Homo sapiens: one gene and its partner. The protein of the gene in region 1 purifies or fractionates together with the protein of each later gene. This does not show direct contact. Each region holds a gene or a part of one and is shown on either strand. Other genes may lie near its edges.

What was found. The genes of interacting proteins can lie anywhere in the genome.
Region 2: the proteins of RAPH1 (region 1) and GPM6A purify together in Homo sapiens (co-immunoprecipitation; one large-scale study listed by IntAct). This does not show direct contact.

The regions. Positions count from the first base shown.
Region 1 is NC_000002.12:203,455,302-203,458,801, forward strand, and holds part of RAPH1 (ras-associated and pleckstrin homology domains-containing protein 1), read right to left. Parts: intron 2,295-3,500; coding exon 2,229-2,294; intron 280-2,228; coding exon 136-279; intron 1-135. UniProt on the Homo sapiens protein: Mediator of localized membrane signals. Implicated in the regulation of lamellipodial dynamics. Negatively regulates cell adhesion.
Region 2 is NC_000004.12:175,634,265-175,637,764, forward strand, and holds part of GPM6A (neuronal membrane glycoprotein M6-a), read right to left. Parts: intron 794-3,500; coding exon 641-793; 3' UTR 1-640. UniProt on the Homo sapiens protein: Involved in neuronal differentiation, including differentiation and migration of neuronal stem cells. Plays a role in neuronal plasticity and is involved in neurite and filopodia outgrowth, filopodia motility and probably synapse formation.

The DNA.
Region 1 (3,500 bases):
TAAACAAAGCAATATTCTATGTCTTCCACGAACTGAAACAAATCATAGCCTGGGTTCACCTTGTCAGCATACTCAATACAAATTAAAAGCAATTAGCATAATGAGGAAGTTCAAATTCCAACAGAAGGGACACACCTTTGCTTTTCCTTTGGGAACATAGTAGATACCAGATGCTCGCAAGAGAAAATAACGCTTTTTCCAGGACTTCTTGCCATCATCCTTCAACCAAAGGACTCCTTCAATTTCTGGTACAGTTACAGAACTTCCACAAAAACATTCCTAAAATAACAAGATTATTTGCAAAGACTTATGATCGTTGGATTCTCAGAACAAAGTTGTGTTTACTCCTGTGAAATGCATGACAGTTATTAAACCAAAATGGTTTTATATTAAAACCAAGCTGCTAATTTAACCTCAATTAGAACTTTCCAGCCAGGTGTAGTGGCTCATGCCTGTAATCCCAGCACTTTGGGAAGCGGGTGGATCACTTGAGGTCAGGAGTTCAAGACCAGCCTGGCCAACATAGTGAAACCACGTCTCTACTTAAAAAAAAAAAAAAAAGCCAGGCATGGTGGCGCGAGCCTGTAGTCCCAGTTATGTGGGCAGCTGAGGCACAAAAATTGCTTGAACCTGGGAGGCGGAGATTGCAGTGAGCTGAGATCACACCACTGCACTCCAGCCTGGGCAACAGAGCGAGACTCTGTCTCAAAACAAAAACAAAAACAAAAACAAAAACAAAAACAAGACAAAACACTTTCTATTCTAAACACAATATGAATTTGGAACTACTATGGCAATCCTAAAATGTTTATTAAATAAAAATGCCAGTCATACATGTAATACTGAATTTTTACCTACAAACTTTTAACTAAAACACTGTTTCGGAGAAAAACTAAGTTGACACATGAACTGAGTTGCATGTAACAGTAGTTAAATACCTTTGCAAACAGCACAGTTACACTAAATTTAATAAAACTGTCAGGGCAAACCAAGCGTTAGACTTTATTTTTTCTCTACATTTAGATTAGCTGTCAAACTAAACAGGAATATATTTTAAAAGAATGCAACGTGCTAAGTGTATGATTAAACTTTAAGAATTTAAAAACTATCCATTTATGTGACTCTAAGACAAAGAGGGCATTTATTTAAAAAATAATACTAGGTTGAAAGGACTATAAACACTCAAAATTCTAAGTTCTAAACACTATGCTTTGATAAAAATCTAATATTAAAGAAATCAATCATGTATTTGTGAAAGAAAAGAGAAATCCTCAGAAAACACTAATATAGGACATTTGGGCCTAAATTAATTTTTCTCCTCAAAGTACAGAAAAATTAGGAATTACAAGGCAGATTTTTACTTAACCGTAGTTAGTATCACTATGAAAACTGAATGTTGATCTTCGCTTCCTAATTGCCTTGCTGGTAAGTAAGGGTTTATTCAGGTTTTCAAGTATACTAAGTTATTTGATTTTAGTTCTATAAAATCAGCCAAAAATTCAATTATATTTTTCCAAAAAATGATCATGATTTTAAAAATTATTTAATTATTTAAGGATAAGGCTGGAAATAATTTGTGAACAGCTAATTATATTCAAATTTCTCTCTGAGTAAGCAGATAAAAACAGCAAAACCACATCCTTCATTGACCAGCCACCTCTCCCACTTGGCAGCCCCTAAAAGCTCATTATTCTTAGATCACTAGAATATGGCTTGGCAAAATAATAAAGGGTCTTCAGTGGCCTAACACGTTCACACAGTTGAACTCTCTCCCTCATACTATCAAAGAATACACAGGCTTCTTTAATTAAAATTGTAACTACAAATATAGAACACTGACATACTTGACTTCAAAAAGGTATTTAATATTTTATTTTATTTATTTATTTATTTATTTATTTTATTGAGACAGAGTCTCACCCTGTTGCTAGGCTGGAATGCAGTGGTGCAATCTCGGCTCGCTGCAACCTCCGCATCCCGGGTTCAAGCAATTCCCTGCCTCAGCCTCCCGAGTAGCTGGGATTACAGGCGCCCACCACCACGCCTGGCTAATTTTTTTATTTTTTAACAGACAGGGTTTCACCATCTTGGGCAGGCTGGTCTTGAACTCCTGATCTTGTGATTCACTCACCTCAGCCTCCCGAAGTGTTGGGATTGCAGGCGTGAGCCACCATGCCTGGCCTAATATTTTAATTTTTAAATGTGCAGGAAAATGGGGGTTGTCATACCTCCAAGAGGACTTCTTTGTTTCTATCTGCCATCTCAGCTGTTTCTTTTTTCCCCAAAAGATAATTCTGGAAAAACAAACATATGGAAGGGATGGGTGGGAGAGAAAAAAAGAAGGTTAAAGCATAAATCCATTCTGTTATTCCCTTGGCACAGGTGTGTGTATGTTTTCTTCTAGAGAAATAGCAACTCTGATTTCTGTTGGTATAGAGTAGAATAAACTTTGAAAAGTTACCTGTGTATGGGCATCATCACTAAAATGCTTAACACCAGTCTCCTCCTTGCCTGTCCACTTGTCATAAACTGTCCTTACCCAGACTGTGAGGTGGTATTACATTCAACAGCTGGCAAATATGTTTTGGGATATCTAATGAAAGCTACGTTAGAGGATCTGAAAGGTTTAGAAATTCATAAGTACAACAAGTAAGGCAAATTTCCTTAAAATATACTGATCTAGGTGCAGAAAATTTATGTTCTGGCTTTTTAAGAAGAAATCCCATATTCTCTGGGACTCATTTATTAATAATCTCATTTACTTGACTCAACTAAAAATCTGAATTCTGGCTGGGTGCAGTGGCTCACACCTGTAATCCCAGCACTCTGGGAGGCCAAGGCGGGTGGATCACGAGGTCAGAAGTTCAAGACCAGCCTGACCAACACGGTGAAACCCCGTCTCTACTAAAAATACAAAATTAGCCAGGTGTGGCAGCACGCACCTGTAGTCCCAGCTATGCAGGAGGCTGAGGTAGGAGAATCGCTTGGAGGCGGAGGTTGCAGTGAGCCAAGATCACGCCACTGACTCCAGCCTGGGCAACAGAGCGAGACTCCATCTCAAAAAAAAACAAAAAACAAACAAACAAAAAAATCAAACTGAAGTCTACTCATTAGTACACAGTCATCCCTTGTTGTCCATAGGAGATTGATTCTAGGATCTCCCCTGTATACCAAAATCTGCTGATGCTTAAAGTCACTTATAAAAATGGGGTCACATTTGCATATAACCTATGCACATTCTCCCTTGTACTTTAAATAATCTCTAGATTACTTACAATACCTAATACAATGCCTACCTATCATTTAATTTGCATGAATTCAATGCAGTACTCAAGCGTGGCATATTCAAGTTTTGTTTTTTAGAACCTGGAATTATTTTTCTGAATATTTTAGATCTGCAGTTGTGCAAATCCACAGATGCAGAACCCATGGATATAGAGGGCTGACTGTACTTCTTTTTCTTTTTCTCTTTTTTTTTTTGGAGACGGAGTCTCACTGTC
Region 2 (3,500 bases), on another chromosome or scaffold:
AAGGAAAAGTACAATGTTAACAAAGATAAGAAGCACTTTTTTTTTTAAACCTACTCTTACAAATTTAGAAATTGCACCTTAGATTGATGAAAACATGAACCAGGGCCTACAGTAATATGGCCACTGATCTTCAGACAAAATTTCCATATTTCAAGAGTCATCAAGATGTAATCTCTATCTATTGTTCATAATGTACAATGGTCCCTTTGAAGGTTACCTGTAGTTAAACTAGTTACCGAAATCAAAACTAAAAAGTATAAAAAGCTATTTTCTTTTCAAAACATAAGAAATAATGCAAAAGGTGTTATGTATAACACATGGGAAGTGGTTAAAAATCAAACAAATCTTTGCATTTGACAATGTTAGTATCTTTGATTTTACAGAACTAGTAAATGAGTTTGAGAAATTTCAAAAAAAAGGCTGGATAGGAGCTTGTAGAAAAGATCTGATTTACATCAATTTAATAAATTGGGAAATTTAAGTGCTAAACAACAAAGAATTGTACTCAGGTGATTCATAAGTCACCTTACATATCATTGATGAGAAGCACTTTCGTTTTGTTTTTTAAAGGTTGGATGGTTGGATGGCCCTTAGTTAAACACCAATGCATTCAAATGGTAGAAAGAACAGGAAGATGCATTTATGTGTATGCATTGAGCCGCTCTTTGGAGCGAGTAGAGTGGATGTCATGAAGCTCTTGCTCTTCCTTCGACTTGATGTCTTCATACTTCTGCATCCGGCAGGCGTCTTTCACATAGGCCCAGTTGGCAGACAGAACCATAAGGTAGTGAACCTAATCAAAGAGAAAAATAATTTATATTGGAAGTTTGTTCAGTGTCTTCATTACACCTTGCTATCTCGAAAGAAGTCTTCGAATTATAGCTCTTTATAGGAAATGTTCACATATAAAATGGAAACAAAATTTCTTTGGTAACAGAAACAATATAAAATATATTTTCATTCCTCCAACTATATCCCACCATATTCTTGGCACCATTTCTTTCAGTATCTCTTTCTCCTTTTCAATTCTTGGAAGTAATCCAAAACTAATTCTTAGTCTTTATAGGATGTTTCCTGCCCAATGTGTCCTCATTTGCCCAAACCATAGATGATTCATTTCATGTTCATGTATCTATGTTTTATAATCCATAATCAGAAATATTTTCACATACCGTTGTGTCTAACTGACTTGAATTAATTGGAGGTTCTATTACCCCAATTAAAGAGAGATCATGGAAACCCCCAAATATACCTGTGGACTTGATTATCAGGTTAATTTTGCATATGATGAATTTTGTAGTTTCTTTTTGGTTATAAACTACAGGAGATAAAATATTGTGTTACATGGATTTTTTATATGTATATACATTCACAAAAACTGGAATAGTGCCATGTTCAAAAAGGAAGCTCCTGGTTTGTCTTGAGTAATGAAGTTGCTGGAGAAATAAAGCTCCTTTATTTGACTTGAGTTTACCCAGCAATGAGACCGCTTATTTGTTTTTCTTTTCTTTCTTCCCTCTTGGTCCACAGGGGAGATAAAGCAGCTTTCCACATGATGAATTTTGATGAATAGGGAAGAGAAACTAAGTTGACAGTTATTTACATTCTCTGAGTTTTAAAGGGTGGGCAATATTTTAATCCAACATTCAGAAAAATAGAACACTAAGATTTTGATAATTAGTAAACAGTACATTGAAAGAGGAGGCGGGCTGGTTCTAGAAAAGTACAGATGGATATAAAGAATGCAATGTCAATTCTAAATAATGAATATTGTGGTGTGTTCAGGTAGTCAACAAACAGCAAAAAACAAAATAATTTTGACACGGGATGTAGGGGAAAAGATGCATACCACTATAAATAACCTATTTTTAGAATTTTCTGTTTCCTCTGAAGTTTAGCATTTTGTTTAAGGAATATTGTAAGCCACCTGAAAGCAGGGGCTGTGAGTTATATTCTTGTACATTATGGCATTTACATAGTGAAAGCATAATCACTGTATATATATATATATATATATATATATATATATATATACATATATATATGGATTAAATAAGGCTTATACACATAATGAAGTTTATGCAGTATTTTGTTGCTGTAAAATATCAAGTGCTGTGGAGAGTGCTTAGTACATAGCAGATACACAAAATATTTGCCAAATAAATGAATGTATTTTTCAATCTTCAAAAACTTTTCATAATATCTGAGAAAATGTGGCCCCCAAATTATTATTAAATATGTATAATTGAGGCCAGGTGCGGTGGCTCACGCCTGTAATCCCAGCACTTTGGGAGGCCAAGGCGGGTTGATCACTTGAGGTCAGGAGTCCAAGACCAGTCTGGCCAACATAGTGAAACCCCATCTCTACTAAAAGTACAAAACGTAGCTGGGTGTGGTGCCACGTGCCTGTAATCCCAGCTACTCGGGAGGATGAGGCAGGAGAATGGATTGAACCTGGGAGGCAGAGGTTTCAGTGAGCTGAGATCATGATACTCTCCTCTAGCCTGGGCAACAGAGTAGACTCTGTCTCAAAAAAATACATATATATATTTACATAATATATATTATATATAAAATATATATTTTTATATTATATATATTTTACATACATGAGGAAGCACCTGTTTCTGAATTGGAGTGATCTTGAATTTCTTTTCAGTATTTCACTCATGCATATATATATATATATATGTATTTATATATATTTATATATGTAAATATATATAAGATAAAAAATATATTTATATAAAAATATATATAATACAAAAATATATAATATATTTATATATAAAATATTTGTAATATAAAAATATATAACATATAATATATCATATATAATATATTATATGTGATATATAATATATAATATATTATATATGATATATTATATGTCACATATAATATATCATATATGTGACATATATCATATATTATATGTGACATAATATATCATATATAATATAAAATATATATTATATATTATATATAATATAAAATATATATTATATATTATATATTATATAAAATATATATTATATATTATATATAATATAAAATATATATTATATATTATATATTATATAAAAATATATAATATATAACATATAATATATTATATAATATATAATAATATAATATAGTATATATATAAAAATGTATAATTATATATATAAAAATATATGGAGAGCCTTAGAAGGACTCCCAGTAACCTCATATATATATGACCTTTATATATATATAAAACCTTTATATTTTTATATATATAAAAATATACAATATATTATATATTATATAAAAATATATTATATATTATATAAAATATATTATATATTATGTAAAATATATAATATATAATATATATTATATATATATTATATATTATATAAAATATAAAATATATAATATATATAATATATATATAATATATAATATATTATATATTATATATATTTATATATAATATATTATATATTATATAAAAATATAATATATAATATAAA